Homo sapiens: one gene and its partners. The protein of the gene in region 2 interacts with the protein of the main gene of each other region in a pairwise test. Each region holds a gene or a part of one and is shown on either strand. Other genes may lie near its edges.

The links.
Region 1: the proteins of ELOA2 (region 2) and TRIM37 interact in a two-hybrid assay, tested with the Homo sapiens proteins (one large-scale study listed by BioGRID and IntAct).
Region 3: the proteins of ELOA2 (region 2) and ZNF165 interact in a two-hybrid assay, tested with the Homo sapiens proteins (one large-scale study listed by BioGRID and IntAct).
Region 4: the proteins of ELOA2 (region 2) and ZBTB43 interact in a two-hybrid assay, tested with the Homo sapiens proteins (2 studies listed by BioGRID and IntAct).
Region 5: the proteins of ELOA2 (region 2) and SOHLH2 interact in a two-hybrid assay, tested with the Homo sapiens proteins (one large-scale study listed by BioGRID).
Region 6: the proteins of ELOA2 (region 2) and COIL interact in a two-hybrid assay, tested with the Homo sapiens proteins (one large-scale study listed by BioGRID and IntAct).

What each region holds. Positions count from the first base shown.
Region 1 is NC_000017.11:59,047,881-59,051,380, forward strand, and holds part of TRIM37 (E3 ubiquitin-protein ligase TRIM37), read right to left. Parts: intron 3,449-3,500; coding exon 3,334-3,448; intron 1,514-3,333; coding exon 1,298-1,513; intron 1-1,297. UniProt on the Homo sapiens protein: E3 ubiquitin-protein ligase required to prevent centriole reduplication. Probably acts by ubiquitinating positive regulators of centriole reduplication.
Region 2 is NC_000018.10:47,032,822-47,036,973, reverse strand, and holds the start of ELOA2 (elongin-A2), read left to right. Parts: upstream 1-1,352; 5' UTR 1,353-1,709; coding exon 1,710-3,971; 3' UTR 3,972-4,152. UniProt on the Homo sapiens protein: SIII, also known as elongin, is a general transcription elongation factor that increases the RNA polymerase II transcription elongation past template-encoded arresting sites.
Region 3 is NC_000006.12:28,083,568-28,086,815, reverse strand, and holds part of ZNF165 (zinc finger protein 165), read right to left. Parts: intron 1,336-3,248; coding exon 925-1,335; intron 645-924; coding exon 506-644; exon of another isoform or gene 458-505; coding exon of another isoform or gene 430-457; intron 1-429. UniProt on the Homo sapiens protein: May be involved in transcriptional regulation.
Region 4 is NC_000009.12:126,803,619-126,807,839, forward strand, and holds the start of ZBTB43 (zinc finger and BTB domain-containing protein 43), read left to right. Parts: upstream 1-1,421; 5' UTR 1,422-1,514; exon of another isoform or gene 1,515-1,952; intron 1,953-4,221. UniProt on the Homo sapiens protein: May be involved in transcriptional regulation.
Region 5 is NC_000013.11:36,211,757-36,215,997, forward strand, and holds the start of SOHLH2 (spermatogenesis- and oogenesis-specific basic helix-loop-helix-containing protein 2), read right to left. Parts: upstream 2,801-4,241; 5' UTR 2,771-2,800; coding exon 2,723-2,770; intron 1-2,722. UniProt on the Homo sapiens protein: Transcription regulator of both male and female germline differentiation. Suppresses genes involved in spermatogonial stem cells maintenance, and induces genes important for spermatogonial differentiation.
Region 6 is NC_000017.11:56,951,051-56,954,550, forward strand, and holds part of COIL (coilin), read right to left. Parts: intron 1,394-3,500; exon of another isoform or gene 1,060-1,393; intron 714-1,059; exon of another isoform or gene 598-713; intron 1-597. UniProt on the Homo sapiens protein: Component of nuclear coiled bodies, also known as Cajal bodies or CBs, which are involved in the modification and assembly of nucleoplasmic snRNPs.

The DNA of each region.
Region 1 (3,500 bases), on a different chromosome or scaffold from region 2:
CATCCAGCCCATAAACCAAGCACCAAAGAATAATACAGTTTTCAAAAATCTATTTTCTGCTCCTGTGCCTCAGCTGCTGAGCCCTGTAGAGAAAAATCACACAACCACACTGACTGATATCATTTTACTAACTTATGCGTGCCGCCTTCAGCTGGGCCCTCAGTGTGACTGGAATCCTTCACATATTCCACATCAGCTTCCTCACAGAGTAACGTTTCAAACCATCACTCCTCAATTCTACCTAATTTTACCATTATCAAGGTCATTAATTAACACTGTCACCTATCTGCACAGAAAAAAAATACCCACTATTAAGCAAAAACTTCCCCAACTTTTCAGCTGCCTTACCTGCAAACTCCACCCTTCCTTTAACTCAGTTTATCAAAGGTTAACTGCTTCACCTGACTGCTCCATTCCAAACCCTATTATCTCTAGTTTATCAAAGCACTTAATCTGTGCATTCTCTCGACCCACTGGGTCCTTCATTTTAACTTAAAACTGAAGTCTCTCATCTTAAAAATTACTACAAAAAAACCAACTGTCTATGCATCCCTTCTTATGTAAAAATATCAACTACTTCTTGAACTCTTATTCTGGATTCTGACTGTTGTTTAGCTGGGATAGAACCTGGCTAGCTACCGAATCCTAAATCAGTCTACCTACGTAAGTAATGATAAGGCATGTACTAGTTTCAGTGAATGAAAATAGAACACCTTTTTTTTTTCTTTTTCTTTGAGACAGAGTCTTGCTCTGTCTCCCAGGCTGGAGTGCAGTGGCACAATCTTGGCTCACTGCAACCTCCGCCTCCTAGGTTCAAGTGATTCTCCTACCTCAGCCTCCCAAGTAGCTGGGATTACAGGCAAGCACCACCACACCCAGCTAATTTTTGTATTTTTCGTAGAGACAGGGTTTGGCCATGTTGGCCAGGATAGTCTCGAACTCCTGACCTCATGTGATCCACCCACCTTGGCCTCCCAAAGTGCTGGGATTACAGGTGTGAGCCACCGCACCCGGCCAGAACACATTTTTAAAATCCACAATGTATGGTAGTTTAGGTTTTAAAATGTGTATCACGGTTTGTTTTATACAATGTATTGTTTTTTTCACAACCTTGAAATGCTTTGATTCAACAACTTCTGACTTATTAACATTTACATAAGGGCATACATACATTACTAATGGAAATCAATGGACAATATTTTTAGCCTACTGTTTTAGCACATAATATGTTAAAAGCCATGATGCTACTGTTTTTTTTTAATCAAACACAAAAATCTAAAACTGGCCTCATTATTACATGATAATCTTCATTCTGAATCTTCTCCTCATCTTCTTCATCCTCTTTGGCCTCTCTTACAGAAGCTGTAGTAGGACCACCTTCGAGAAGCATGTCAGAGCATGCAGACTTCTTAGCTCGTGTCTCCAGAGCATCATCATTTTGGGGGCTAAGATGGTTATCTGGTGGTGACAAATCTCTTGACTTCTGAGTTCGAGACAGCTCAATAGTAAGTCTCTTTTAAAACAAGAAAAGCACAAATATTAGCCACAGCTCACTGGCACAGTAAAAGATGTCTCAAGTGAAAAAAAAATGCATCCAGATGTTTCTAAAACCATTGCTTTATTTATTTTTTGAGAATGGTCTCACTCTGTTGCCCAGGCTGAAGTGCAGTGGTGCCATCATAGCTCACTGCAAGCCTTGAACTACTGGGCTCAAACGATCCTACTGCCTCAGCCTCTCAAGTGGCTGGGACTGGAGGTGTGTGCCACCATGCTTGGCTAATTTCATTTTTATTTATTTTTAGAGACGGTATCTTGCTATGTTGCTCAAGCTGGTTTTGAACCCCTGGGCTCAAATGTTCCTCTGGCCTCGGCCTCCCAACATGCTGGGATTACAGGAATGAGCCACCTCACTTGGCACCATTTCTTAAACCATTTCTCTGAATCCCTACTGCCTTTTATTTATAAAAAAAAATTGATGACAAAGATAAACTGCCCCATTTATGCTCATCCTCCTTCTTTCATATCCAGCCTAAGCTAAACATACAATTAGCAAACAGTATAGTGAATACAGGCAGTTTTAAATAGCACATTTAACATGAAAATCTCTGAAAGCATGTATTTATTCACATTTTCCTCCCTGACCTATTAACGACTCTCAGCACTCCAAACCTCCTGCCACACCCTAACTTCCTAAGGGAAATGAAACATTCCTTAGTTTACCACTGTAAAATAAAAATTCATCAATTAATCTTCCCCAGTGCTCATTCAACAATAGTAAGAGTTCAAGATGGGACAACTTTTAATTGTGCTATAGCCTAGAATCCTCTAAATCCAAGATAACTTGTGGAAGAGAAACTAAGTCACTGACAGAAACACAAACAGCTTACCTCAAACTACAGCCACACTGTTCAAAACAACTTTATGCAATGATGGAAATGCTCTAGATTTGCAGTAACCAATGCAAGCACTTGAAATGTGGCTACTGCAACTAAGGAACTAAATTTTTAATTTTAATTAAGCTAAATTTACAGACCAGGCACAGTGGCTCACACCTGTAATCCCAGCACTTTGGGAGGCCAAGGCAGGCAGACTGCTTGAGCCCAGGAGTTCAAGACCAGCTTGGGCAACATGGAGAAACCCATCTCCACAAAAACAAAAACTAGCCATGACACATGCTCGTAGTCCCAGCTACCTGGGAGGCTAAGGTGGGAAGATCACCCGAGCTTGGGAAGTTGAAGCTGCAGTTAGTGGAAATTGTGCCTGGCAACAAGAGTGAGTCCGACCTGTCTCCAAAATAAAAAAAAATAAAAATAAAGTGGCAGGGCGTGGTGGCTCATGCCTGTAATCCCAGCACTTTGGGAGGCCGAGGTGGGCAGATCACGAGGTCAGGACATCGAGACCATCCTGGCTAACACTGTGAAACCCTGTCTCTACTAAAAATACAAAAAAATTAGCCCGGTGTGGTGGCAGGCGCCTGTAGTCCCAGCTACTCAGGAGGCTGAGGCAGGAGAATGGCGTGAACCCAGGAGGCGGAGCTTGCAGTGAGCCGAGATTGCACCACTGCACTCCAGCCTGGGCAACAGAGCGAGACTCCTTCTCAAAAAAAATAAATAAATAAAGTAAAATAAAAATTTACATGGCCGTATGTGGCTAGTGTCTACTAAACTGGACACTGCAGAACTGGTAAGGATGGGGAACAAGATAACTAGATTTTTTTTCTAATTACAAATTACAAAATTACAAATAGCAATAAAATATATAAAATCTAATTACAAATATAACAAGCCAAAAGGACAATAGGAAACACCAAAACAGAAATAGATATTTTCTTACCTCTTTAAGGTTGTTTATTTGTTGGATATAACTAGTCTGTGCAGCTTCCAACTGAGTAATGTACCAATGCTGGTCCCGGGATTTTTGAAAGAAAGTTGGTGAACGTACCTGAAACCTTAAAAGAATTGTGCCACATTAAAAAAAAAATTCAAATAGTAAAACATTAT
Region 2 (4,152 bases):
ACCTGTAGGTTCTAATTTGTTTCTTGTTTGTTTCCTGACTATCTCCTGGCTCTGCCAGGAAACTTCCTAACTTTCAAATGCTGTACAACCCAAAAAAATGCTAGAAATATCAAAAGAAGTGTCTACAGATCCAGAAAAGACATTTATTGAATTTAATACAATGTCAGAATTGGTCAACTATGCTCAGAAACATAGGACCAAGTGTTCCCTAATTTGAGAGGGTAAATAAGTAACAACAGAAATAAGAGAAAAAACCATAGATATTTCAAATGATCCTGTTTTAATAATTGTCACTGAAAATTAAAGTCCGATCCAGATACCAAATCTGTTTCAACAATAATAGCTAGAGACAAGAGTAAAAATTTCTTTAAAGTTTTAAAACAGGTGGAAGAAGATCCAGAAATATTTATTCCAAGATTTGTAAGCGGGGATAAAACATGGCTACACTGGATAGTCCTGAAGAAAGAGCACAAAACAAAGGCTACCAAAAGGTGGCAGCACTCCAGTCAAAGACAGAGAGGACCAGTCAAGAGAAGAGGTCATGGCAACAGTTTTGGGGAATGCTCAAAAGATATGACTAAAAGACTTTTTGAAGGGCCAAACCAAGATCAAATATGCTTACTAACAGAGTTTTTGAGAAAACTAGCCAAAGCATGAGCAGAAAAACCATTACCAGAGAGTTCTACCTAATCATGAAAAAGTTCTTGCTGTAGCATTTCACTGAACAAAGGGCAGTTTGGCAAGAGTTTCAAAAGGAGATCATGAGGCGTCCACCTTGCAGTCATGATGTGGAACCTGCTGACTTCTATTTATTTCCTCGTATTAAAAATTCTGCAAACGGCACCCAGTTTTCTTCAGTTAATAATGGAAAAAAGATTTCTTGGAAATAGTTAAATTCCCAGAAACATCAGGGCTTGAGGGACAAGGCGGGGTCAAGACAGTGCTCGAACTACTGTCTCGAAATTGATGGAGCAGATGTTAAGAAATAAAATCTACCGGTTTTATTTTTGTCTTTTAATCCCTGTTTTGACAAATTTGGGAAGTCCCCTCACACAACATCAGTCCTAGGCAAAGAGTTGTTATCCTGTATTGGTTCTTCTTTCTATGATTTTGTCTTGCTGTGTTATTTTCTGTTTTACTCCCAAGAAGATTCAGTCTGTGTTTTTTGGAATTCACAGATGTGGAACCTGCGAACATGGAAGGTCAACGGTAAAACTCAGTGGGGTGTGTCGAGGCTGAAATTAACCTAATCAACCTCTGGGGCACAGCAGTCCACCTGGCGTGGACCGTCCCGATTGTCTGCATTGTGCTGACGGCATGAGTACGTATGGGGGCGGGGCAGCCCAAGAGCTAAGAGGGTCAGGGCTAGAGCCGTGAGTGTCAGCCTGGGATGGGCTACATAAGGCCCAGCTCTGGCACCAGAGCTTCATTCTTTGTTGCACAGCAAACTGCAGAGGTCACTCCAGGCTGTGGCTCCACATCCCGAGGAACAAAAGCGGGCCTGCTCAGCTGTCTGCAAGGACGGCCGTTCCAGACCAAGTGGCCTGCTGCTCCGAGGACCCAGCTCGCTCCAGGCTGTGACTCCACATCCCGAGGTCGCTGCCTGGCGACCGGGCAGCGAGGACCGGCCACCCCAGACTTCCTGTCCCGCAGCCCCAAAGACAGAGCTGCGACCGCCGGGACAGCGACGCCTGCACAGCTCTGGTGAGATGGCGGCAGGGTCCACTACGCTGCACGCAGTGGAGAAGCTGCAGGTGCGTCTGGCCACTAAGACGGAGCCGAAAAAGCTAGAGAAATATTTGCAGAAACTCTCCGCCTTGCCCATGACGGCAGACATCCTGGCGGAGACTGGAATCAGAAAGACGGTGAAGCGCCTGCGGAAGCACCAGCACGTGGGCGACTTTGCCAGAGACTTAGCGGCCCGGTGGAAGAAGCTGGTGCTCGTGGACCGAAACACCCGGCCTGGCCCACAGGACCCTGAGGAGAGCGCTTCCCGACAGCGCTTCGGGGAGGCTCTTCAGGACCAGGAAAAGGCCTGGGGCTTCCCAGAAAACGCGACGGCCCCCAGGAGCCCATCTCACAGCCCTGAGCACAGACGGACAGCACGCAGAACACCTCCGGGGCAACAGAGACCTCACCCGAGGTCTCACAGTCGCGAGCCCAGAGCTGAGAGAAAGTGCCCCAGAATAGCCCCAGCTGATTCCGGCCGCTATCGGGCCTCTCCAACGCGCACAGCTCCCCTCCGGATGCCCGAGGGCCCTGAGCCCGCTGCGCCCGGGAAGCAACCCGGAAGAGGCCACACTCACGCGGCTCAGGGCGGGCCTCTGCTGTGTCCAGGCTGCCAGGGCCAACCCCAGGGGAAAGCCGTTGTGAGCCACAGCAAGGGGCACAAATCGTCTCGCCAGGAAAAACGCCCCTTGTGTGCCCAGGGAGATTGGCACTCCCCTACTTTGATCAGGGAGAAATCATGCGGGGCCTGCTTAAGAGAGGAAACCCCAAGGATGCCCTCCTGGGCAAGTGCCAGGGACAGGCAGCCTTCGGACTTCAAGACAGACAAGGAAGGGGGGCAAGCTGGCAGCGGCCAGCGTGTCCCTGCCTTGGAGGAGGCTCCAGACAGTCACCAGAAGAGGCCTCAGCACAGTCACTCGAACAAGAAGAGGCCCAGTCTAGACGGCCGGGACCCAGGAAATGGGACACACGGCCTGTCGCCCGAGGAGAAAGAGCAGCTTTCCAACGACCGAGAGACTCAAGAGGGGAAGCCACCGACTGCTCATTTGGACAGAACGTCCGTGAGCTCCCTCTCTGAGGTGGAGGAGGTAGATATGGCTGAGGAATTCGAGCAGCCCACTCTGTCATGTGAAAAATACCTCACCTACGATCAGTTGCGGAAGCAAAAGAAAAAGACTGGAAAATCTGCCACCACTGCACTTGGAGATAAACAAAGGAAAGCAAACGAATCCAAGGGCACTCGTGAGTCCTGGGATTCGGCTAAGAAATTGCCTCCTGTCCAGGAAAGCCAGTCAGAGAGGCTGCAGGCGGCCGGCGCTGATTCCGCCGGGCCGAAAACGGTGCCCAGCCATGTCTTCTCAGAGCTCTGGGACCTCTCAGAGGCCTGGATGCAGGCCAACTACGATCCGCTTTCGGATTCTGACTCCATGACCTCCCAGGCAAAGCCAGAAGCACTCTCTTCACCAAAGTTCCGGGAGGAAGCTGCTTTCCCTGGACGCAGAGTGAATGCTAAGATGCCGGTGTACTCGGGCTCCAGGCCTGCCTGCCAGCTCCAGGTGCCGACGCTGCGCCAGCAGTGTGCCCAGGTGCTTAGAAACAATCCGGACGCCCTCAGCGACGTGGGAGAGGTCCCCTACTGGGTTCTTGAACCTGTTCTGGAAGGGTGGAGGCCCGATCAGCTGTATCGCAGAAAGAAAGACAATCACGCACTCGTTAGAGAGACAGACGAATTACGGAGGAATCATTGTTTCCAGGACTTCAAGGAAGAAAAGCCACAGGAAAACAAAACTTGGAGGGAGCAGTACCTGCGGCTTCCGGACGCCCCAGAGCAGCGGCTGAGAGTAATGACAACGAATATCCGATCTGCACGTGGAAACAACCCCAACGGCAGAGAGGCAAAGATGATCTGTTTCAAATCTGTGGCCAAGACGCCTTATGATACTTCAAGGAGGCAAGAGAAGTCTGCAGGAGACGCTGACCCCGAAAATGGGGAGATCAAGCCAGCCTCCAAGCCCGCGGGAAGCAGCCACACTCCCTCCAGCCAGAGCAGCAGCGGCGGTGGCAGAGACAGCAGCAGCAGCATCCTTCGCTGGCTCCCTGAGAAGCGGGCCAACCCCTGCCTGAGCAGCAGCAATGAGCACGCGGCGCCCGCGGCCAAAACCCGGAAACAGGCTGCCAAGAAAGTGGCCCCGCTGATGGCCAAGGCAATTCGAGACTACAAGAGAAGATTCTCCCGACGATAAACTCAGGACTTGCCTTGCAGATAAAATCTGGGGGGATTTTTGCATTGGCAAAGTCAATGCGGGTTGGGGAACGAAACTTCCAATGGACACCAGAACCTTTAACTTGGTGCAAAGTTGAGCCTTTGAATTCTGCAGGTGTCATGTGCTGGCCCTGTGATTTTGCCTCCCACACCCAGCCACT
Region 3 (3,248 bases), on a different chromosome or scaffold from region 2:
TGTGTTTTGGAAATATTCTGGATAAGGAACAAAATTATCTTTTCCCCTACCATTGGCCAAAGACTCACAGGAAAACAAGTTCTCTCTCTCTTTTTTTTTTCCTTTATGAGATGGAGTCTTGCTCTGTCGCCCAGGCTGGAGTGCAGTGGCGCAGTCTCAGCTCACTGCAAGCTCCGCCTCCCAGGTTCACGCCATTCTCCTGCCTCAGCCTTCCGAGTAGCTGGGACTACAGGTGCTACGGCTAATTTTTTGTATTTTTAGTAGAGATGGGGTTTCACCATGTTAGCCAGGATGGTCTTGATCTCCTGACCTCGTGATCCACCTGCCTTGGCCTCCCAAAGTGCTGGGATTACAGGAGTGAGCCACCGCACCTGGCCACAAGTTCTCTCTTTTCATTGGGTAATAAAGGAAAGGACCATCTACAGTTACCAAGACTAGTTTGTGGAGGGAGATTCATTCCCCTGTTTCTTTAGTGATGTGCACTATATGGCATTCTGCCCCTCACCACAGTCCCATAGGAGCTGGGGTTCTGATGAATCAAAATGGGCCTTGGTCTCCACTGGCTGTAACTTGACATTAAGTGCTGGTCCAGGAGGTGACACTTTTTTCTGGAATATTTCTTGTCCATGTTCATGGGCTTGAACCTGAGAAAAATAAAGTACATTTGGGCTTATAAAAGAATCCCTGTGTTAAACGTCTTCTAACAACAAAGAGAAACTCCCATAGAAATGCAAAACTGGGGAAGGAAGAATCGAGTCTGATTTAATTGTAAAATGTAGTGTGGAATCAAACAGACAGGAAAGGAGACATAAATGCACACTGAACCAACAGCTCCTGCAAGCTAGATATGCAATCTCGGGCCTCTCCTCCCACCGTGGAACTTTATCCATTATGGAGGTCTTAGATCTCCCATCCCCTGTGCACCTGGAGTACTGCTTCATCAGTGCCTCTCTCCAAATCTTCTAGTATGGTCACTGCCTCCTCTCCACTCTCTGGGTAATGTTCATGTACCCAGGCCTGCAAATCTCCTGGCAGGATGGTCAGGAACTGCTCTAGCACCAGCAGTTCCAGAATCTGTTCCTTGGTATGGATCTCTGGCTTCAGCCACTGACAGCAGAGCTCCCGGAGGCGGCTCAGTGCCTCGCGAGGTCCAGGAGAATCCTGGTAGCAGAACTGCCTAAAAAGCTGCCTGCAGAGCTCCTGCTTAAGGAGTTCACTTCTCTGTAAGCAAGTGTCCTGCCCATGGATAAATTCTTCCTCTTCTATCTTCACTATCAGAAGTCCTTCATCCTCTGGAGAGTTCTGGGCTGCAGCTTTCTTTGGTTCTGTAGCCATCTGTGGATAGAATATATTATCAGAACTGCTTTGGAAAGGGTCTTCTTTAGTTTCAAGAGTCCTCCTGAGGGATCAAAAGTTACTATTACTGTCTAAGAAGATGAAAGACCACATAATAAAAATCGTCATTCTCCATTACACAAAAATTTACTGGGCATTTACTATATGCAAAAGCACTGACATACTTGGTTTCTAGAATACAACTGTTAATGATTTCTACTTCAAGATAGCTTAATTTTTAAATTTAAAAATAAGATAAATTAGAAACAATAAACTTAAATGTAATGCTAAATATTAACAATGTACATGTTATTAAATTTTAAAAGTCACAGAGAAAATAAGGATAAAAAAGAAAAATGATAGAAGTGCTTCATAAAATAGGAGATGAGAAAAATACAGATGGTTGCAATGGTCAAGGGAAGCTTAATGCAAACATGAAATTCTGAAGAATAGAAAAGATTTGACTAGGATGTGGGAGGGAAAGAAATAGGAAATTACGAACAGAGAAACAGTCTGAACAATTGGGTAAGAGTAGGAATACAGAAGAGGGAAAGCAAAACGTTTAGTAGGTTTGTATAAGAAAATTATAGAGGCAAAGCTTGGAGATGTTATTGTAGAAAACATCAACTGTGAAGTTCATGAATTTGGAGTTTATCTTTTAGGCACTGGGGAGTCACTGAAGAGGAGTCAATTCTTCTGAGCAGAATGACCTGCTAAACACTGTGGAGATGAATATGTTCTTCATTTCTAGGGTGGGTGGCAATATGAAAAGATAGAGGCCACTGTATTCATGCAAGTATGAGGTTCTTTTTTTTGTTTTTTGAGAGGGAGTCTTACTCTATCACCCAGGCTGGAGTGCAATGGCGCGATCTCGGCTCACTGCAACCTCCGCCTCCCAGGTTCAAGTGATTCTCCTTCCTCAGCCTCCTGAGTAGCTAGGATTTCAGATGCACACCGCCACACCTGGCTAATTTTTTGTATTTTTAGTAGAGATGTGGTTTCACCATGTTGGCCAAGCTGGTCTCAAACTCCTGACCTTGTGATCTGCCCACTGCCCATCTCAGCCTCCCAAATTGCTGGGATTACAGGTGTGAGCCACCGTGCCCGGCCTGAGGTTCTTTTACTAAACATTTCACTAAGTTGACTACTGACTGATGCAATAACACACATTTTATTAAGAATCTTATCACAAGCAAAGCATTGGGCTAGAAGTTGTACAGCAATGGTTTACAAGAAAGTCTGAATATGACACTGGGCTTGCTGCCTAATCATCATATGGGATCTTTGGTAGAAACAGGTTCTTGGGCCCTACCTCTGGAGATGCAGACTAGGGGCCTGCTCCTAGAGATGGTAACTTGGTCAGTATAGTATATGCCTGGAAAATCTGTATTCTAATATACAGCTTAATGGATTAAACAAAAAGTCTTTGAGTTTGAAGAATAGAAAAGATTTGACAAGGATGCGGGAGAGAAAGAAATAAATTCAGTGGGAAGAACTAGTTGGGAAGAAATTATAAAACATGGATACAAAAGATTTAAATGAGAAAACGTTTCACATGACATATACATTGTACATGTTTGTTAAATGTTGAATGTTGAAGTATAAAATGAGTTTATGGTGGAGATACTGAATGTTCTAACGGTCCTGAGGTGGGAAGAGACTGTGAATGGTAGAAGGTATTTCCTAGAGGTGGTGGGTATTAGAAATAAATTTTCGGTGCAGCAAAAGAAATAGCACTCGAACATGAATTTTCTCATCAAGGCAATTTTGCTTCTATAGAAAGGTGTGTCTCGCAGATGGAGCAATGGTGAGAGCATACCTGATCAAGGGAGAGGAAGGGGTTCTTATCTCTGACGCAGGTAGTCCCTACTGCTATGTCGTTCCCCTATTGGCTAGGGTTGGACTGCATAGTC
Region 4 (4,221 bases), on a different chromosome or scaffold from region 2:
GAGAATCGTTTGAACCTGGGAGGCGGAGGTTGCAGTGAGCCAAGATTGTGCCACTGCATTCCAGCCTGGGCAACAGAGCAAGAATTCGTCTCCAAAAAAAAACAAAACAAAACAAAACAAAACCACAAGGCGGGGGAGCTGGAGCATACATGTTTGAAGTAGAATCTTTGACAAGCTGTTCTGCATCCACTCCCATTTCTGTGCTTCCATATTTGTTTTCTTTCATTTTGTTTTCTAGAAAAAAAAATTTTTTTGGTAGAATTCTCTAGGAAAGCTACACTCCTGTGTCCTAGGGCCCAACAACAAGCAAGACAGGCATAACAGCTGGGAAACCAATCAGCTTAAACTGAGACAGACAATATCAAACAGGCATGTCAGGCCCCACGAGAACATCCACCCTAAATCCAGAAGGCATTATGACCACATCGCTTCAGCTGCCTGGATTTCAGGTATAAATTAGTTCTTCTACAAAGAGGGCACTTGGTCTGTAAACGGGTCCAAAGGTAAGAGTCCCACCGCTAAAGACCTATCTCTCTTCTACACTAACATGGGGGGGCAGTGGGGAAGAAAGGGGCGAGAAGAGGTATGGAGGTTTTGGGAGGGAGTGGGAGAATTGGAGGCTAGAGAGATCGTTTCTGTCCCACCATCTGTGTGACCCCAGTGCCCAGCACAATGCAGCCCACGGAAAGGCACTGGTCCTTTCATTGACCATTTACTGAGCATCTACTACATGCCAAAAAGCGAGATGGGTGCTGTGAAGGCAGAAACGGATTTGGAGATAATCTCCGCCAGGCATACTGAGGTCAAGGTTTTCGTTCGTTTGTTTAGAGAAGAGACGGAGAAGGTCAAGGTGTTTTTGTTTGTTTTGTTGTTGTTGTTGTTGTTGTTTAAGAGTCTTGCTCTGTGCTCAGGCTGGAGTGCAGCGGCGTGATCTCGGCTCACTGCAACCTCTGCCTCACGGGTTCAGGCAATTCTCCTGTCTCAGCTTCCCAAGTAGCTGGGATTACAGGCGCGCGCAACCACGCTCAGCTAATTTTTGTATGTTTTGTAGAGACAGGGTTTCACCATGTTGGCCAGGATGGTCTCGAACTCCTAGCCTCAAGCGATCATCCCCTCTCGGCCTCCCAAAGTGCAGGGATTACAGACGTGGGCTACCGCGCCTGGCCTATGCCAAGGTTTCAAGAAGGTTTAGAACTCAGTATCTGCTCCCCTATTTTCAACAGCGTAGTCAGTCCCTAAAATTGACCCGCTCCAGAGTGTACTGCGCAGGCGCCCGCTACCTCCGCGCTCTCTCCCGACGCCCAGCTCAGACGGTAAGTCCCGCATGCGCACTCCGCTTTCTCTCTGACGCACCCCCGGAAGCACTGTCAGTTTCGGGGGGCGGGACCGGGAAGCGTTTCCGGGGGCTGAAGGCACAGGCTGAATCTGTTGCGGCAGCTGAGGCTACAACAGGCCTGCGCCGGCGGCAGAGAGGATATCTTGGGCGGGGGATGTGAGCGCTGAGCCCTTGGCAGGTACTGCGTGGCCAGGACCACGGGCGGCAAGGGTAGGGGAGGAGAAGTCGGTGGGGGAGTTAAGGGCTCCTCAGCAGGCCCCGACGCTCGCGCCGCTGGCCCCGCCAGGCCCATTCCGTGGACCGGCATACCAAAGCCCCGCGCGGGAGGTTGGGGTCCCGGCGCTCCAGCTCCGAATCCCGCAGTCTTCTGCCCACACGGCGCGCAGACCGCGATACCGAGGCCTTTGGGGCAGCTTCTCGCCCAAGGTCACCCTCGCGGCGGCGGAGCTCCGCCGGCCACAGCGCTTAGAGATCCCGCCCCCGTCCGTCCGCTGGCCTTTCGGGGCGTAGGGTGGGCGCGGCTTGACGACCTCGGGTTCGAGCCACCAATGCCTGAGGCCTGACGAGCCGAGCTGGGAGAAAGACTGCGCCTGGACTTAGCTGATCTTCTGTTTAAGTAAAACATTCAGCATCCCCTGTTGCTGTCTCTGTCACCTGTTGTAACCTGCCCTTTTTGTCTTTCAGCTAGGTCGCTGTCAACCTGATATTTCTCTCCACTTTGTCTTTGTCGGGGTATCTGGATCCTGTTTTATATCTGTCTCCACCTTGCTTCTGTGTCTGTTCACCCTGTCTCTGCCACTCAGCCCTTACTCTAATTCAGGGCCTGTCAGTCTGGCTTTTTGGCCATCTGTCTGTTTCTCTCTTTCTGCCAACTTTGTTTTTGCCTCTTGTCTCTCTTTCCTGAGTTTGGGTGGGGCAGGGCTGCCCAGACCTCTGAGCCATGGAAGGTGACTCATGACCCCGTGAAGTTCCCTGCACTGGTGACACTCTCAGTGACTCGACCGCAGTTTGGCCTCAACTCTGACAGGTGTCGCCCAACATAAGTGTCAGAGTGCAGGAGAGCCTGTCAGGGAGACAGGAGGCCCATTTTAGGGCCAGAGCAGCTTGATGAGTCCTCTCCTTTTCTCGCCTGTGGTTTCTCAGGCCTGCACAGCTTCCCAAATGCCTTCGCTCTATCCACTCACCACAGGATGGTCTCCAGGGATCTCTGGAGCCTGCTCTTTGAGTTACAGCTGTTTAACAGGCCTGTCTACAGGCTAAGAAAGGATCAGACTGAGGTCTTTGGGGCTACTGGAACAGTAGCAGGGTTTCTGGGATAACTGCATGCTTAGTTCAGAGATTGTGTCAGCATTTTCAGTTAAATTATAAGAAACCTAATAATTGGGAATTTATTATTTGCTTTATAAAAGCACCACGGGAGAAATAAACCACACACAAAAGGACAAATGTTGTTTGAGAGCACTTAAATGAAGTACCTAGAATAAACCAATTAAGAGACGGAAAGTAGAATAGTTTACCAGGGGCTGGGGAGAGGAGTTATTGCTTAATGTTACAGAACAGAGTTTTGGGGGATGATGAATAAGGTCTGGAAATGGGTTGTGATGATTGCACAACATTGTGAATGTACTTCACTGAATTGGACTCTTAAAATTACTTAAAATTGTTAAGTCTTAAAGTTTTATGTATATTTTATACAATACAAAAAACAAAAACAGTATTCATTGGAGACTCCTGAAACCAATAAGCTCCTTTTACATGTAATTTTTCAAAATTCATTCTGTAGTTGTTAGGAACACAGTTGAACCTGTGTTTATTGATTCCTACTCTCTTTACAGCAGTGGGTACAGCTGAGGTTCTTAGAAAAGTTTAGTTAAATGAATTTGGTTAAAATCTTTCTCAGGCTTTCTACTTACTTTCTGCCCTGGCTCTCCTCCCTCTGCCTTTCTTGGAATCAGTGCAAGAATGTGCTCATAAGTAGGATACTTGATAATTATGCTTTTCACAGGAAGAAAACTCATAAGGTTGAAAAATAGCCCTTTTATTATAATGCAAAATTATGTGTTATTTCTTGAGTTTCGTTATGGGGGATGCCTTTGTGGTTTTTTTGTTTTTTAAAATCTCTTATTTAAGCTGTCTATTTGCCTTTAAGGTAGTTTATCAAGCTTTCTAATAAGATATCACAACTGAATTACTACTTTATTTAATTGAATCCTAGATGCTGTTATTTCATGTACCACCAAGGAAGGGAGAAACCCTGCTAATTGAACTATGGCTTAATACGCTCTTATCGTTTAGACTTTTTATTATTGAAAACACTTTTAGACTTAGACACTAAAACATGGTATCAATGCCTATTCTAATGCATATATACAAAGGAAAAATAAGAACACATTGGTTAAAGTGTTCGTTAAACTTAACATTCCAAGTTCTACTCTTCTGTGCACTTTTCAATTCAGAGTGTGTCCATATTTTTTCTAGAGTGTCATCCTTTGTGTCATCAAGAACATTGATGAGGACCTCAGCAGTTCTCTATCATTGTCTCAGGCAGTGACAGCTATTAAAACTGCCACCTGGTGATCACATTCTGATTTCAGGAATTTTAAAATGTGAAAAAATGCATGTCTGAAAATTAATTGAAGAGTATCATTTTCATGAACTTTTTTTTTCTTGTTTTTGTTTTTGTTTTGTTTTGTTTTTTTGAGATGGAGTCTCGCCCTGTCGCCCAGGCTAGAGTGCAGTGGTGCAATCCCGGCTCACTGCAACCTCCGCCTCCTGGGTTCAAGCGATTCTCCTGCTTCAACCTCCCGAGTAGCTGGGATTACAGGCGCCTGCCACCACACACAGCTAATTTTTGTATTTTTAGTAGAGACAGAGTTTCACCATGT
Region 5 (4,241 bases), on a different chromosome or scaffold from region 2:
CCTGCAGGTGGTAGTTATTGCCATGTTTTTGCAAGTAATACCGAACTGAGCACAAAGAACACAGAAAACGTCAAATCAACCTAGCAGGGGAAGGACCAGGGGAGAGAGGAAAATGTGTCCATGCTGGGCTCTGCACTGTTTGAATCACAGTGCTCAGGAAACAGGGCCTCCTGCAGAGCATAAGCTTTAAAATAATAGAAATCAACTGCCTAGCTTGAGCCTTTCCCTAGCTAGCACATGGCATTCTGACTGCACTATCCTCCCCTTAGAGGCTCAGTTCCAGTGTCCCCAGAATCTCTCGGCCTTTTGGGGGGAAAAAAAGTCAAGAAAGAGTTATGAAGGGCAGAACATGCATAGTGGGAAGTCGGGAGAAATCTGAGGGTAGGTAGGAAGATGATCTGGAAAGGGATGAGGAGAAACAAGCACCACTAACCCACCGTTCTGTGCAGGAGTCTGAAGTTTTTGCATAGCATCTTGCACCATGGCACAGAGCGGGTATGACATAAAGCAGCTCTGGAAAGAACTGATTTGCTCTTTTGCCAAATGCTTCTTTCTCTGCTTTACAAAATCAGTGCCATAGCACACTTGGAATGTTAATGGACAAATCAGAACACTGCTCAAGTCCACTATCCCAGTTCCATAACTCAAATTAACAGAATAGTTTATAATCAACATAAATCTGAATATTTATTTAGTTTAAAATATGTTGTTGACAATGTAATATGAACACAGGCGATAAAAAAGATCTATTGACAAAAAGAAAAAGGAATAAATGTTTCTAGTATATTCTGCTTGGAAAACTGCCTTTTAGTACATCTAAGATTTTCACCTGCAAGCAGTAATCTGAACCAGTGTTAGGCTTCGTTTGATGAAATATCTTTTTCTGTTTGAATTGCTTACTACACCTTTGTAAACGAAAGTAACATGTATTCACTGGGAAACACTAAAAAATTCAAAAAAGAAAATAAAGTGTAATTCCACCACTCAGGGTAAGCCCTATTAACACCTTGGTACATACCCTTTAAGTGTGGGTGGTTTTAATAACACGACATCATTGTCACCAAGACACTTCATCCACTGTTTCATTTCTGTGATCACAGTAACATGCAGGGCACTCTAGTCTCTACAATTTTTAAAACACTGGATTTCCATTTGCAATCTGTGGCAGGCTAAACCCTTAATTAGTAACAGCAGGTGCTGAAGTGCTTAAAGCAAATCACTCCTACATTTTAGTGAGTTGTTATTTATGTCACTCTTATCACCAGGAGCAGAGCAGCCCACAATCAGCAGCAGCTGCAGGGCTGAGGCTCTCATGGGGCAATTGCGGGCCTTCAGTTTCCTCAGGAGTCAAGGGATTTAAACAGCTCTATCTGGAGAAACTGAGCAAGCGGCTTTTCTCACAAAGGCACACAAAGGGGTCAGTTGGGGCTTCACACTCTCTTAAGGGGAGGAAACCACAATTATTTATGTTCTACTAGATAATCAGATATTTCATTCAGAATTCATTTTGTGCAGCTTTGCCTAATCCTGCACCATAAAATACTATTTTTCCTTAGAGTTTAAATAGGTTCCTCTATCTTGAAAAATTAAGAAAACCTGTTAAACGGGTCCACTTCAAAGTGATCCTAATTCCATTTCAGAAAGCTTGCTCTTAAGAAGAGATGAAATTAAGTTTGCAGAGCATTCTAAGAGGTAATAAGACTACACTCAGCACAAAAGATTGCTCTCTCCTATTTATCAAGATGCGGAAAATACTAAGATGAAAGCCCCCCTCCCCAGCTGGCCTTGCTTTCTGGCGTGGGGAGGTTTCGCCTACGCTTTCCTCCTAGTGGGGTAATCATCACCTTTCACTTTTATCGAAAACAGTTACAAAAGTGATTTTGTGCTTTGCTAAAGGGGCTGAAAAATAAGGTGCTTTCAAGAGAGGCCAGCGGGCTTTTTGATTTCCATGGAGGTGGCAAATGCGTGCAGAGCAGGTCCCGTTCCCACCACGGCTTTGGTTCCACACAAAGTTGCCTGTTTGGGGGGAAGCTCCACGAAGGACACTTTGGGATGCCACGCCAGTGCCCAAACTGAAAATAAGCATGCCCAGCTGTGCAGAGACGGGAATGCAGGAAAATAACGCGCCTAAATAAACTTTCTTATATTAAAAATAAAAATCATCGTTCACATTTTTGTCCAGCCACCAGCCCCAGAGTGCCTACTAAATTGTGTTTCTAGGTAGCTAACTTCACAAGTGGCCTTCTGCTCGAAAAATAAGTTGGGGAAACGTCAAGGGCTAAGATTTTTTTTTTTTTTTTTTAGTTGGAGAATTCACATTTATTGAGTAATTGATGTGATGCAATCTGCAATTTTTGGATTCAAGATAATTTTCACTGAACATTTCATCAGTTAATGGGTTTTCTTTATAACACGATTCAGTTCTCTTTCTTCCTTGGCCTCCTCTCCCGAGATAAATCAGCCCCGTCCCCCAACCTCAGGCCCCAAGGGCCTGGTGGCACCCGGGGGCACCCTCAGAAGCCGGGTCGGCGCTTCCCCAGCTCGGGGCGCCGGGGGAGAGTGGACTCGCGTCCTGGAAGGGGCCCTTCCTGCTATTCGCTCCCCACAGTTCCCCGACAATGAGAGCTCCCCAGGCCGGGCTTTGAGGGCCGAGGGGACCACCGACCTAGGGCCCGCCCGCGAGGTTATAAACGCAGCTGCCTCCCCTTCCACAGCCTCTTACCTGGCCCGAGATCTGGCAGTGCTCCTGGCAGATAATTGAGGAAGCCATGGCCGCTGCGCACGTGCTGGGTCCTGGGGCAGCCTCCCAGCAGGAGGAGCTCCACAGCCGCTGCGTCCCGGGCCCGCCCCCTGCACTAATGGCTCCTGGCCGCAGCTGAGGGCGAGCACGCCCCAGGCGCCCTTAAAGTGGCCCTGTCGCCAGTTCTGGCGCGTGGGGGAGCAGCAGGCCGCTCTGAGGGGTCAACGCGGAACCCGGGTCGGGGGCCTGCCCGCGGGGGCTACTCAAGCTGTCCTGGGGGCCCTTAGGAGACCGCGTCACTAGCTGACTGCGCACTCCAAGTCCCCTTCCCAGGGCAGCTCTCACGACACTAAGCCCCGCGTACTCACTCCCACTGCGCCGCCTGGGGAGGCGGGAGGCAAGGCGTCATCTCAAGATGGTCTAAAAATTTTAAGAAGTCTTTTCTTACGGGCAGTCTTTCCAGTTTAAATGTTAGGAATTAGCAAACACTTGGGTTTGTTTTGCTCTTTTCTAAACAAACATAAACAGAGGATAGGAAAGGCGAGTACTTCTATGGTGATTTCTTTCCAAACCACTAAGAAATTTAAAATGTTAGGCCGGGCGCGGTGGCTCACGCCTGTTAATCCTAGCACTTTGGGAGGCCAAGGCGGGTGGATCACTTGAGCTCAGGAGTTCGAGACCAGCCAAGCCAACATGGTGAAAACCCGTCTCTACTAAAAATACAAAAATTAGCCAGGCATGGTGATGGGAGCCTGTAATCCCAGCTATCTGGGAGGCTGAGGCACAAGAATCGCTTGAACCCGGAAGGCGGAGGTTGCAGTGAGCCAAGATCGCCCACTGCACTCCAGCCTGGGCGACGGGGCGTGATTTCGTCTCAAAAAAAAAAATTAAAAATATTAGAAACACTTCATTTTTGTGCCGTGATTTAACAAATACTGTCCCTATTTTCTCAACGGAAACAATGAGGCGATAAAATTTTCTCGTGACTGCTGCTATGTAAACTCCTCTACTCAACCTTCACTGAACATTTTACTGAGACCTATTGGGCGTCAGACCCGCGGAGGATCCTTCCTCGGATGTGTCTTGACTACTGTGCCATGATTTTTCACTGCTGTAAGTGTGGTGGTTATTGTGGATGACTGCAGACTCTGGATCTCACTAGAGCATATAACACAGAGGAGCTCTCCGGGGAACCATCTCTGCAGGCGGTCCCTGGGCAAGTCTCCTGGTTCCTGAGCAGCTGGTGCTGTGTCCTGGGGGTCCGATTTAGATCCCGGGGGCATGCAAAAATACAGCTGTGATACTCTACAGTTCTGATGGGAAGAAAAGGAGCAGATGAACTTCTGATGGGATCATTCTGCATTACTTTTGGAAGTGTACACGTCTTAATAGAGTGTAATAAATTTCACTTCTATTGCTTTTCCAATTAATCAGGAACTGACAGTATCCACATCAATATCTGTGCGGGAAGTGGTTTGCTCACCAATGTAAGACAGAGGTG
Region 6 (3,500 bases), on a different chromosome or scaffold from region 2:
AGGACATAGTTATATACTGAGATGACTCTACAAAATGTAACTACCATCAGTCAATGAAAAAATGTCACATCACTTAAAGACAAAAGACTCTTTCTGGCAAAATGGCCTATGTAGCATTACTCACAGTCAACTTTCAAATGGCTAGTTTTATTTATTGAATAGCTACTGCATCCTAAACATTTTTAATACGTTTTTCTCTAATCTAAACACCAACACAAAGTAGGTATTTTTAATTTTACAGATCGCAAAATTACAGCTCAGACAAGTTACTTGCCCCAAATCTAGAGCTGATAAGTAGCAGAAACGCAATTCAAACTTCAGTTTGTCTAACTTCAAACTCACAATCTTTCTACAATATGCATGTCACCTACCCTAAAAGGTGATAATGCTGATTATCCATTTTGTTTCAGAATGTGGGCTTCTTTCTTTAATAAGATTTTACTCCTGTTTTAATTTAGGTGAATACTAAACAATTTATGTTCTCTAGGGTAGTGACAGCCATCTGTACAATTCCACAACACTCTGTGAAGCTTAATTTTATGTATCAATTTGTCCGGGCTATTGGACGTCCAGATATCTGGTTAAAATTACGCTGGCTCTTTCCATACCACCACAGTGGTGCACATGAATGTCTTGGCTGATGCTCTCAAGAGCATCAACAAAGCTGAAAAGCAAGGTAAATGCCAGGTTCTTATTAGGCCGAGCTCCAAAGTAACTGTCCGTTTTCTTTTTTTTATTTTTATTTTTCTTTTCTTTTTTTTTTTTTGAGACGGAGTCCCAACTCCGTCACCCAGGCCAAAGTGCACTGGTGCATTTCTCAGTTCACTACAACCTCTCCCTCCCAGGTTCAAGAGATTCTCGTGCCTCAGCCTCCCAAATAGCTGGAATTACAGGCGCCTGCCACTATGCCTCGCTAATTTTTGTATTTTTAGTAGAGATGGGGTTTTGCCATGTTGGCCAGGCTGATCTTGAACTCCTGGCCTCAAGTGCTCAAGTGATCTGCCTACCTTGGCCTCTCAAAGTGCTGAGATTACAGGCATGAGCCATCGCACCCAGCCCCATCGTCCAGTTTCTAACTATAATGATGAAGCATGGTTACACTGGCAAATCTGAAACCACTGATGATCATAGAGCTGGGAAAACTGTTGTGAACCTCACAGGCAGGCTAAACAAGTATGGAATAATCAGCCTCAGATTTGACGTGCAACTCAAAGATCTAGAAAAATGGCAGAATAACCTGCTCCCATCCCACCAGTTTGGTTTCACTGTACTGACAACCTCGGCTGGCATCATAGACCACGAAGAAGCAAGACGAAAACACATAGGAAGAAAAATCCTGGGATTCTTTTTATAACGATGTAATACGTATTTACAAATATATTGCCTCAGTGGAAAAAAAATTATGCTGGGAGTATGTGCAAGGTTGTTTCTGGATGAGATTAACATTTAAATTGCTAGACTGAGTAAAGTACATTGCCGTTTCCAATGTGGGTGGGCCTCATCCAACCCACTGAAGGCCTGAATAGAACAAAAAGACTGAGTAAGGGAGAATTCATTTCTCTGCCTGACTCTTCAAGCTGGGACATCGGTCTTCTCCTGCCTTCAAACTCGAACTTGAACTAGAAATATACCATTGGCTCTCCTTGGTCTATAGCTTACTAAGTGAACTTAGGACTTCTCAATCTCCACAATCCTATGAGCCAATTCCTTACAATAAATCCCATGTCTGTGAGTGAGTATTTGTGTGTGTGTGTGTGTGTGTGTGTCTTACTGGTTATGTTTCTCTGAATAACCCTACTTCATCCAAAATTTCACTATAGGAAAGCAATTTTGTTCCTCCATCAACAGGCAACAGCTAATCCTAGTATGTGCAGTCTGATGATGATGGAAGTCTTGAGACTGTCCTCAATGTTAAGCAAATTGTGAGTACTCAAAAATGCCTGTTGGCCAGGCACAGTGGCTCATGCCTATAATCCCAAAACTCTGGGAGGCTAAGGTGGTAGGGTGGCTTGAGCCCAGGAGTTTAAGACCAGCCTGGGCAACATAGGGAGACCCTGTCTCTACAAAATACAAACATCAGGCTGGGCACGGTGGCTCACGCCTGTAATCCCAGCACTTTGGGAGGTCAAGGTGGGTGGATCACAAGGTCAGGAGATCGAGACCATCCTGGCTAACACAGTGAAACCCCGTCTCTACTAAAAATACAAAAAATTAGCCAGGCGTGGTGGCGGGCGCCTGTAGTCCCAGCTACTCGGGAGGCTGAGGCAGGAGAATGGCGTGAACCTGGGAGGTGGAGCTTGCAGTGAGCCGAGGTCACACCACTGTACTCCAGCCTGGGCAACAGAGCAAGACTCCGTCTCAAAAAAAAAAAAAAAAAAAAATACAAACATTAGGTAAGTATGGTTGGTGCATGCCTGTGGCCCAGCTACCTGAGGTAGGAGGATCACTAGAGCCCAGGAGGTCCAGGCTGCAGTGAGCTGTAATTGCGCCACTGCTGAAAACACACATTATACTTACAAGGCATTTACATTCAGCTATATATTTCATCAAGTTTTTTCAGTGGCCAGGGAAAGATGTAGACAATCATATTTGAAAATAAAGAACAACTGGTGAATGATAGGAGCATATGTGACAAGCATTCTTTAAATTTTTTAAGGCATAGTAATCCTGTGGATTTACCTCAATGCGGTAGTTGAAAAAAATCCTCAATTATTTGTCAGAAAACTAACTATACAGACAAACAAATCAAGATAAAATAAGAGTTACTGATATCAGGAGTAGGAGAAAGAGACAAATAAAATGCTGAGTGACCAGGGATTTTAAATTATAAAAACACATTCCCCTCTGTTCCCAGCTTGGCATCTAATAGCAAGGAAATAATTCTTAATCTGGCAAAAGCCAGTTTGGCATCCTGTGAATCTAAGAACTACCATGGAAGCGCTACAATATCAGATTTTTTTCTTGACATTTCTGATCAATTTGTTTTCACTTGTAGCAATGATCCAAGCTTCAATTCTGAGATGACCAAATAGGACCAAACTTTCTGTCAAATGTTGAAAATGGTTGCAAGTCTCTGTTCAGTCACTGTGGTTTATTAAGGCCCTGGAAAACAGCACATGTAACATCCAGTTGATGAGAACCCCTTCCTTTCCTGGAAGCTGGCAACACCCTCACGCCTTCCAAAACAGCTCTTAGCATCGTCTCATCCATTCTTAAGACCATGCATTGGCCGGGCGCGGTGGCTCATGCCTGTAATAATCTCAGCACTTTGGGAGGCTGAGGTGGGCAGATCACAAGGTCAAGAGATCGAGACCAGCCTGGCCAACATGGTGAAACCCAGTCTCTACTAAAAATACAAAAATTAGCTGGGCATGGTGGCATGCGCCTGTAGTCCCAGCTACTCGGGAAGCTGAGGCAGAAGAATCGCTTGAACCCAGGAGGCAGAGGGTGCAGTAAGCCAAGATCACGCCACCGCACTCCAGCCTGGCGACAGATAGAGA